Linked DNA regions of Homo sapiens: region 1 is linked to region 2. Evidence: fine-mapped expression QTL. A gene starts in region 2. The other region holds a variant in brackets. All regions are shown on one strand. Distances are from middle to middle.

Region 1 (5,378 bases), 81 kb after region 2:
ACCATTAGGAATGTCAAGGTGGTGACAGCAGAGAATCAAACCAAGTGTAGGTCTCTTCTGAGTATGAGGCCCTGTATGCAAGTCCGAAAGTCCTCAGCACCTTCAGGAGTTTGTTCAACAGTCAACTTCTTATTTTTTATTCTTCTTCTTATTTTCTTTTTCTATTTAGCATTTCTCACTCTCTTAACTCACTGTTTAACTTACTTATTCCACATTTTCTGTCCTCTCCCTGCATTAGGATATATGAAGGCCAGGGGTTTTGTTTTGGTCACTGCTGTATCTTCAGCTCCTGGGACACTGCTTGGCACATAGTGAGCACTTGAATACTTGAAGAAATAAAGAGAGAGAGAGACAGAGAGAGAGAGAGAGAAAGGAAGGAAGGAATGAAGGGAGGGAAGGAGGGAGGGAAAGAGAGAGACAGAGGCAGGGAGAGAGGGAAAGAGGGAAGGAGGGAGGAAGGGAAGGAAGGAAGGAAGGAAGGAAAAAAGGAAGAAAGGAAAGAGAATACATTGATTTTTTAGCTGTCAGGTAGGAATAATCAATTTTTAAATCCATTCTTCAGAGGCAGAGTCTCACAGACCTGAAGTATCTGTATAAAAATTACACGAATTCTTTTATCTGCTTCAGTTTTTACCCCAGGACACACTTGGGCCACAGAGCAGCTGGACCTTCTTGCCTTCTAATAATAAATACAGTCTCTCCATATGGGCTTTTCTTATGCAATCCTGCCTCTCCTTATTAGGTCCTAAAACTGGGGGTTTCTTTCTTTCTTTTATTTTTTTGAATTATTGGCTCTTTTTATCTTTTTTTTTTATTATACTTTAAGTTTTAGGGTACATGTGCACAACATGCAGGTTTGTTACATATGTATACATGTGCCATGTTGGTGTGCTGCACCCATTAACTCGTCATTTAACATTAGGTATATCTCCTAATGCTATCCTTCCCCCCTCCCCCCACCCCACAACAGGCCCCGGTGTGTGATGTTCCCCTTCCTGTGTCCATGTGTTCTCATTGTTCAATTCCCACCTGTGAGTGAGAACATGTGGTGTTTGGTTTTTTAACCTTGCGATAGTTTGCTGAGAATGATGGTTTCCAGCTTCATCCATGTCCCTACAAAGGACATGAACTCATCATTTGTTATGGCTGCATAGTATTCCATGGTGTATATGTGCCACATTTTCTTAATCCAGTCTATCATTGTTGGGCATTTAGGTTGGTTCCAAGTCTTTACTATTGTGAATAGTGCCGCAATAAACATACGTGTGCATGTGTCTTTATAGCAGCATGCTTTATAATCCTTTGGGTATATACCCAGTAATGAGATGGCTGGGTCAAATGGTATTTCTAGTTCTAGATCCCTGAGGAATCGCCACACTGACTTCCACAATGGTTGAACTAGTTTACAGTCCCACCAACAGTGTAAAAGTGTTCCTATTTCTCCACATCCTCTCCAGCACCAGTTGTTTCCTGACTTTTTAATGATCGCCATTCTAACTGGTGTGAGATGGTATCTCGTTGTGGTTTTGATTTGCATTTCTCTGATGGCCGGTGATGATAAGCATTTTTTCATGTGTCTTTTGGCTGCATAAATGTCTTCTTTTCAGAAGTGTCTGTTCATATCCTTCGCCCACTTTTTGATGGGGTTGTTTGTTTTTTTCTTGTATCTTTTTGTCTTTTAAAGGTAATTTTATAGGTGAAATGGTTTCAAATTCAAAAATTATAAAAGTGAAAAGTCTCTATCTTTGCTTGTCCAGCCACCTAGAAAAAAATACCTTGGAAAAAAACAAATATTATCGTTCAAGACTCTTGTGAGTCTTCCCAAAGATGCTCTATGCAGAGACTGTACTAGCAAATACATATGTGATGTGTGTGTATGCCCCTGTTTTTCTTTCATAAAAAATTATAGCATAATAGGATGTGAGAATGGGAAGATTTATGTCTCAGTTTTGACTGAGGTGCCAGAATTCCAGGTTCCAAATACTCTCATGTTTCCCAAGGAGATGGCAGGTGTGTGTTGTAGTACTTGGAAAAAGGGTTTTTGAAAACGGGTATTGCAACCCTTGAGCCTTTGCCACGTGAGGATATAAAAGAGGTTGGAAAGCCCAAGGTGGAATTAGAGATTGATGAGGAGGAAGCTGTTGACTTGAACTTTGAGCTCCATACCCCATACCCACAGGGAAGCAGGATTTCCCTCACTTTCAGCCCAGGGCTGAAGTGGCTTGTCCATTAAGGTGATTTTGCCTCACAGGGGACATTTGGCAATGTCTGGAGACATTTTGGGTTGTCCCAGCTCGGGGGCTGCTGCTGGCATCTATTGGCTAGTGGCCAGAAATCCTGCTTGTCTTAGTCTGTTTAGGCTGCTGCAACAAAATATCTTGAAATGGGTAATTTCTAAAAACCAGAAATTTACTGCTCACAGTTCTGGAGGCTGGAAAGTCCAAGATCAAGGTGCTGGCAGGTTTGCTGTCTGTTGAGGACTCCTCTGTGCTTCAGAGTTGATGCCTTGCTGCTGCATTCTTATGTGGTGGAAGGGACAAGCATGCTCCCTCAAGCCTCTTTTATAAGGGCATGAATCCCATTCACAAGGGTAGAGCCCTCATGACCTAATCACTTCCCAAAAACCCCACCTCTTAGTACTATACCTTGGGTATTAGGTTCCAACATACGAATTTTGGGAGGACACCAACATTCAGAACACAGTGCTGCTAAACATCCTCAAATGCATATGATAGTCCCCTGCAATAACAAAATACATGCCCCAAATGTCAATATCATTGAGGCTGAGAAACACTGGCCTAAGGAAAGGGGCTTCTTTAGTCCCTCTGTGAACTGGTTAAATGTCTTTTGCAGTTGGTGGATGCAGGGGACCCATGTTTAGAGGCTGGGGCTGGCTCTCTGTGCTAGTGGAGGGGAGAGGCAAAAGTGCTGAATGGGGAGTCATCTCCATCTCCTGATAGAGGATGCTGAACAATTGCTGTGGCCCAGATAAGGTTGGTGAGTGAGAGAG[T/AGTGTGTGT]GTGTGTGTGTGTGTGTGTGTGTGCAGACGCGCGCACGCGTGAGAAAGAGAGAGAAAGAGAAAGAACAGAGAGAGATTGAGGGAGCACTGCATGGAGAGGTGAGCTCAGGTGAAAGAGACTGGAGGGAAGCTCTGGCAGAAGGGAGCAGTCAGGAGTACTAACCTACACCAAGGGAGACACAGGCAAAGGTGTCTCCAGTTGGGGGAAGGTGTGGTGCATAGCGGGGTGCCTCGAAAGAACTTCTCGAAGTACTTCAGCAGAGAATGAGTCTGCATCAAATACCTGGAAAGCCCAGAGAGCTGACAACAGTTCTCAACATTATTAAGCAAGTTAGAGCCTGGCTGACACTCCAGTGGCACACAGAGAATAAAATCCATAGCTCACAAGATCCTACTGGATTTGACCACTGCTGGCCTCTCTAACTTCATCTTCCCTTTATTATTTTGCTCTGGCCACAGTGGATCTCAGGCTGATCCTTGAACACACCAAACTTGCTCTGACCTCAGGGTCTTCATGATTGCTTTTTCTACCTTGCATCTCTGTTGCCTCTCTCCATGCAAGTCTCTGCCCAAATGCCACCATCTCAGAAAGGCCTTTCCTGATCAGTCCTTCTAAAATAGGCAAGCAATTGGTCACTATCTCCTTCCCTTGCTTTATTTCTCTTCAGACCACTTACTATCTAATCTTTTGTTATAATGTATTCACTTACTGTGTCACTCCTCCATTATAAAGTAATATCCCTCCAGGAAAAAAACTTCACCTTTATTTTCCCAGGGCCTATGGCAAATTTAACATCTGATAAGTGTCAAATAAATATTTGTTTAATAAAGGAAAGAACAAGTATCTGAGCAAGCTGCTGTGATTTGCCAAGCTGTTTGATTTGGCTTCTCCTTTGTGAATGAGTGGAGTCTTAGCATCACTTCTGCCTCCTCTGATGCTGAGCTGTTTTGCAACAGCTGAGCTGTTTGCTCAGGTAGTGTTATGAGCACACCTTATGTCCAATGTCTCCTCAGCAAAGATCTGCTCGCCTCAGCTCTGACTCTGCCCATTCACTGACATTCTCCTGTCAAATTCCCTGGTCCCTGAGCAAAAGACATGGAGGGCAAGGGAATGGTATGGCAGGGCCAAACACTTCACACAGCTTTTCAGATAAAAAGCTCTCTAGGACCTCCCTGTTTAAGCACTTCAGGTTAAAAGTTGTAAATTAAAAGAGAACAATGACTGCCTGTGCTCTATTATTTTTCTAAGTCAAGTATGGCTGTGCTTTATTTATATTCTAATTTAAGAGATATATCTTTTCACCTTTTTTTTTTTTTAGACAGAGTATCACTCTGTCCCCCAGGCTGGAGTGCAGTGGCACAATCTTGGCTCACTGCAACCTCTGACTCCCGGGTTCAAGTGATTCTTGTGCTTTAGCCTGGATCCTCACCTCTAACCTTATATAAAAACCAACTCAAGATGGATCAAAGACTTAAAATCTAAGACCTGAAACCATAAAGATTCTAGGAGATAACATCTGAAAAACCCTTCTAGACATTGGCTTAGGCAAAGACTTCATGACCAAGAACCCAAAAGCAATGCAACTAAAACAAAGATAAATAGATGGAACTTAATTAAACGAAAAAGCTTCTGCATAGAAAAAAAAAATCAGCAGAGTAAACAGACAACCCAAGAGTAGGAGAAAATTTTCACGATTTATTCATCTGACAGAGGACTAATATCTAGAATCTACAAGAAATTCAAACAAATTAGCAAGAAAAAAAAATTTCTTCCAAAAGTGGGCTAAAAGACATGAATAGATAATTCTCAAAATAGTTATATACAAATTTATTTTATATACAAATGGCCAAAAACATGAAAAAATGCTCACCATCATTAATTATCAGAAAAATGCAAATCAAAGCCACAATGCGATATTATCTTACTCCTGCAAGAATGGCCATAATTTAAAAAATAAAAAAAAATAGATGTTAGTGTGGATGTAGTGAAAAGGCAACACTTTTACGCTACTGGTGGGAATGTAAACTAGTACAACCACTATGGAAAACAGTGTGGAGTTTTTTTAAAGAATTAAAAGTAGATCTATTGTTTGATCCAGCAATCCCACTACTGAGTATCTACCAAGAGGAATAGAAGTCATATTATGAAAAAGACACTTGAACATGCATGTTTATAGCAGCACAATTCACAATTGCAAAAATATGAAACCAGCCCAAATGCCCATCAATCAACAAGTGAATAAAGAAAATGTGGTATATATATACCATGGAATACTACTCAGCCATAAAAAGGAAAAAAATAATGGCATTCGCAGCAACCTGGATGGAGTTGCAGACTGTTAATTCTAAGTGAAGTAACTCAGAAATG
Region 2 (5,378 bases):
AGGGAGAGGATCAGGAAAAATAACTCATGGGTACTAGGCTTAATACCTGGGTAATGAAATAATCTATACAACACACCCCCATGACACAAGTTTACCTATGTAACAAATCTTTACATGTACCCCTGAACCTAAAAGTTAAAAATAATAATTTAATAATAAAAGCACAGATAGGTAAGAGGAACAGCTAGATATTTAAAAGGTAGATATTTTGGAGGAGATCTGTTTTCTTTGGGGAAGGGTCTTACTCTGTTGCCCAGGCTGGAGCAGTGGTGCCATGATCGCTCACTCCAGTCTTGAACTCCTGGCCTCAAGCAATCCTCCACCTCAGTCTCTTGAGTAGTCAGGACTACACGCTTGTGCCACCATGCTCGGCTAATTTTTAAAAATATTTTGTAGAGACAGAGTCTCACTATGTTGCCCAGGCTGGTCTTGAACTCCTGGCCTCAAGCGATCCTCCTGCCACGGTCTCCCAAAGTGTTGAGATTACAGGTGTGAGTCCTGTGCCTGGCCAGAGGTTTGTCAGTCTTATCATCTATGAATTAATTCAATAGACATCACGACCACATTTCCAAAACAAACATCAGGAATTATGATGTGACAAGTCAAAATGCATTGGTTGGGGACAGAATCTTTTAAATAGAAATTGTCCCATAAAATTTGAGACGTATAGTTTCTGTACCTAAATGACCATTCAGTGATCTTGGAAATCTATAGTGCTGCTCGTCACCAACTCCTGATATGTTTCAATTCTGTTTGCAATGGACAATAATAAAATAATATGTGAGTGTGGCCTCAGGTATTCTGAGTTTGGGCACTGCTGTTTCCATCTGAGGACCAAGACCTACACATCTCAGTAGCACTGAAAAAGTGAACAAACTGGTATAGAGTGCCAGAAAACTTGATCAGAATACATTATATATACTCTAAACCTGAAAACCACACTCCCTAATATTGCGCTGGTGAGCTGGCAGGTAAAGGAAAAAACATTGAGAAAGACAGCAGCCCCCAGAAGAGAAACAATCCTAAAAGAAATGTCCAAATTGCCAATTACTTTCTGTTTGTCAAAGTCTCTACTGGAGGTGCATGGAAGTTTGGTGAGAAGAATGAACCTTTGTGCAAGATCCCTCAGCTGACAGACCTGTGAGTGCCTCTGGGTGGCTGCTTTGTCTTACAGAAGGCATTTTGTTTCCTGACACTTTTTCCTGTGGCCTTTGCTCTTCGTATTCTGTATGTTAGGCTTCTGTTTCTATCAATATTTGTCATTAATAGCATTTACATTGCTCCTTCAGAATTTATTTATTTTGAGACAGGGTCTCGCTCTGTTGCCCAGGCCTGAGTGCAGTGGCACGATTATAGCTCACTGCAAGCTTGGACCCCCGGGGCTCAGGGGATCCTCCCACCTTAGCCGCCCAAGTACCTGGGGCCACAGGCGTGTGCCACCACACCTGGATAATTTTTTTTTTTTCTGAGTTTCACTCTTGTCACCCAGACTGGAGTGCAATGGCATAGTCTCGGCTCACTGCAACCCGTCTCCCGGGTTCAAGCGATTTTCCCACCTCAGCCTCCCAAGTAGCTGGGATTACAGGCGCCCGCCACCACACCCAGCTAATTTTTGTATTTTTAGTAGAGACGGGGTTTTACCATTTTGGTCAGGCTGGTCTCGAACTCCTGACCTCAGGTGATCTGCCCGCCTTGGCCTCCCAAAGTGCTAGGATTACAGGCGTGAGCCACCGCGCCCGGCCCAATTTTTATTATTTTTATTTTATTTTTTTATAGACACGGGATCTCTCTCTGTTGCCCGCAAACTCCTGGGCTCAAGCGATCCTCCAGCCTTGGTGAGAGCCACAGCGCCCAGTCTCTCTTTAAGAATTTAAAAAGCAGTTTCAGATCACAATATCATCTATCTCGTTCACAGTCCCCTTGCTTTTTACTGTCACCCTTTAAAAAGCATTATACAATTACAGAAACGGTGGTTTAGCAGTGAAGTAACCACCAAAGACTCTTGGCACTCCAATCCTCTGCCTTCTTCAGGCGATAGGATTAAGAATGGGATCCTAGGATGCTTACATGCAATGATGAACCCGAAAACACTTGCAAAGTGCTACGCAAATATTGATCACGAAGAAGGAAGTCCTCTTCCCGCCTGGAGACTGTGTGGGGTATGGCGGGGTGGTGGGGAGAATGTGGTGTCTTGCTCCACCCTCCTGGCGAGGGGAGGGCCTGGCCTGGACCGCAGAGGAATCGAGTGACTGCCCCTAAAATCTCCTAGAACCGATCCCGCGGCCCCGCCCCTCCCGCGGCCCCGCCCCTCCCGCGGCCCGTCAGCCTCTGCCGCGGAGCTGCGTCCGCCACTCATGTTTCTCCGAGCAGGCCTGGCCGCGCTCTCCCCGCTTCTTCGCAGTCTTCGGCCCTCTCCTGTCGCCGCCATGAGCACTGGCACCTTCGTCGTGTCGCAGCCGCTCAATTACCGCGGCGGGGCCCGCGTGGAGCCGGCGGACGCCTCCGGTACCGAGAAAGCTTTCGAGCCAGCAACCGGTAACTGCAACGAGCCGGGGAGGCTGGGGCGCCCTGGGGCCGGATGCGCGGATTTCCCGGCCAGCCCCCGTTTCCTGTGTTCTGCAGCGTTGACTTGAGCACAAGACAGTGACAGTGGAGAGTCTAAGGTTGTGTGTGTAGGCAACTAGCGATTCTGGGGCAACGCGAGTGCCTCCGGGCAGGGATGGGTAGGGAGGAAAAGCAAAGCTGATGAGTTGCGTGGTAGGATCGTGAGTTGTTTTACCCGGGCCAGAACAGAGTTCGCAAAGTACTGGTGGGGGAAGTCGTGCCTCTGTTAACTTCCTTTTTTGTTTGTTTTGTTTGTTTGTTTGTTTTTTGTTTGTTTTGAGACAGGGTCTCACTCTGTCGCCCAGGCTGGAGTGCAGGGGCACCATCTCAGAGCTCACTGCGCCCTCTACCTTACGGGCTCAAGTGCTTCTCCCGCCTCAGCCTCCCTGGTAGCTGGGATTACAGGCTCCCACCACCATGTCCGGCTAATTTTTGTATTTTTAGTAGAGACGGGTTTTCAGCATGTTACTCAGGCTGGTCTCGAACTCCTGAGCTTAGGTGATCCTCCCGCCTCAGCCTCCCAAAGTGCTGGGATTACAGCCGTGAGCCACCAAGCCCAGCCAACTGTTCCCCCTTTTAAAACCAGGACTGATGTATTATTGTCTTCAAATGTGTGCATAGGAGAGGAATTCTAAAAGAACGGGGCGGGGTTGTGGGGAAGATAATCATTTGTGCTGGGAATGAAGGAACGCTCACAGATAGTTTCTAATGACTACGAATGAGGACTTTGTCTCCACATTCTAATATTAAAATATTTCTGCACATTAATCAGAATTGGGAAAGGAAAAAACCCCACCTTTATTCAGTACTTTCTTCCCCAGCTTTATTGAAGTATAATTAACAAATAAAAATTGTATATACTTAAGGTGTAAAACGTGTTGTAATGTATGTATACCTTGCAAAATGGTTACCACGGTCAATCTAATTATCCATTGCTTCTGCATAGTTAATGGCTTTTTTTGGATAGTGAAATATTTAAGATCTATTCTTTTAGCAAATTTCAAGTATATGATGCAGTATTGGTAACCATAGTCACCATGGTCTACGTGAGCTCTCCACAATTTATTCATCTTGCTGAAATAAAACTTTTTAATCCAGTGCTTAATGTGTGCTAAGCACTGTGCTAGGCACTGGATTTACTCTGGGAACTCTGAAGGTCACAGAGATAAGGAAGAAGGGGCTTTTTGTTTTGGTTTTGTGTTGTGTTTATTTTGCTGGGTTTTATGGAATATATGTGGGGAGAAAAATGTAAATATTTTGTGTAAAATGTAGCCAGAGCAATAAAACTGATTTGCAGGGGACTGGAGAATTTAGTATTTGACCATCCACACTAAACCACAGAGCAGTGACTTGGCAGAGCCAGAAGGCATTATCACATCTCTTCTTTATATAGGAGGAAACAGCTTCTCTACCCCGACTTAATCCTGATACAAAAGAAAGAAAAATTGCTCTTTGCTTTAATTGCCTACAGTGTGTGTGATCCTCAGCCACCGCCTTTACCAGCTGGCTATTCAAGTTTGTAACAGAAATTGCAGATTTGTGAAATCTCCCTGGAAAGAGTCCCAGGAGTTCTTGTGAAGAGGATTTGCTGAGTTGGCAAACTTAAAGAATTCTTGTTGGTAGAGGCAGTACAGTCCTTGGGCTATGGGCCTAGAAAAACTGATTGTTTCATAATTTGCACCAGAATAGGGAGAGGGAATAAAGGTGGAATAAGAAAAGGAAATCTGGGAATTTTTGAGAAAAAAAAAATGTTCCTTTAGGGTTGCCTTATCCTGATATTACTGCTTATTAACTATATTTATCAAGTATCAAGTAGTATGATATAACCTACATAGAATATAGACAAGGGATTTACAGTCAGAGTTTATAACCCAATAGACTGATTACTTTTGACTTTCATTTTACAAGACCCCTGAGATTCTGAGATAATGTTTAGGAGTGTTGCAAAACTTAATCAGAAGTTAATGTTAGTAAACTCAACTGTAAAATAGTAGAGGGCAGGGGTTCTTAACTCTAAATCCTTGATGAGTTTAGGGCAGGGGACATGACATTCCTGTAATTCTGTTATATGTTTAAGTAGATTTTTCTGGAGAGAGGTCTGCAACTTTTATCAGACTCCTAATGTCAATGACCGCAAAATACAGTTAAGAACTGCTAGGCCGGGTGTGGTGGCTCATGGCTGTAATCCCAGCACTTGGGGAGGCAGAGGTGGGTGAATCACTTGAGGTCAGGAATGTAAGACCAGCCTGGCCAACATGATGAAATCCCGTCTCTACTAAAAATACAAAAATTAGCTGTGTGTGGTGGCAGGCGCCTGTAATCCCAGCTACTCGGGAGGCTGAGGCAGGAGAATTGCTGGAACCCAGGAGGCAAAAGTTGCAGTGAGTCAAGATCGTGCCATTGCACTCCAGCCTGGGTAACAAGAGCGAGACTCCGTCTTAAAAAACAAAAAAACAAAACAAAAAAACCTGCTAGTATAGAGATGGTCACTAAATCAAACCATACATAAAAACAAGAAGTTACGGTAGCCCACGCCTGTAATTCCGGCACTTCGGGAGGCTGAGGCGGGTGGGTCACAAGGTCAGGAGATCAAGACCATCCTGGTCAACATGGTGAAACCCGGTCTCTACTAAAAAATACAAAAAATTAGCTGGGCGTAGTGGCGTGCACTGGTAGTCCCAGCTACTCAGGAGGCTGAGGCAGGGGAATCGCTTGAACTCAGGAGGCAGAGGTTGCAGTGAGCCGAGATCGCGCCACTGCACTCCAGCCTGGGT

What was found.
Region 1: its variant is fine-mapped to the expression of ALDH9A1 in whole blood (INTERVAL, PIP above 0.99).

Annotation. Positions count from the first base shown.
Region 1 is chr1:165,614,995-165,620,372 of GRCh38, reverse strand. No RefSeq gene overlaps it. Among named protein-coding and RNA genes, the nearest start is that of MGST3, 14 kb to the left of the region's middle. The variant T/AGTGTGTGT (reference allele first, on the strand shown) is at 3,011.
Region 2 is chr1:165,695,535-165,700,912 of GRCh38, reverse strand. ALDH9A1 (aldehyde dehydrogenase 9 family member A1) reads left to right here and starts at 2,351. Exons shown (of 11, transcript NM_000696.4): 1 at 2,351-2,535. The coding sequence starts at 2,355. It also overlaps the pseudogene CA14P1. RefSeq lists enhancers at 1,916-2,095, 1,960-2,542, 2,386-2,615 and a silencer at 2,166-2,355.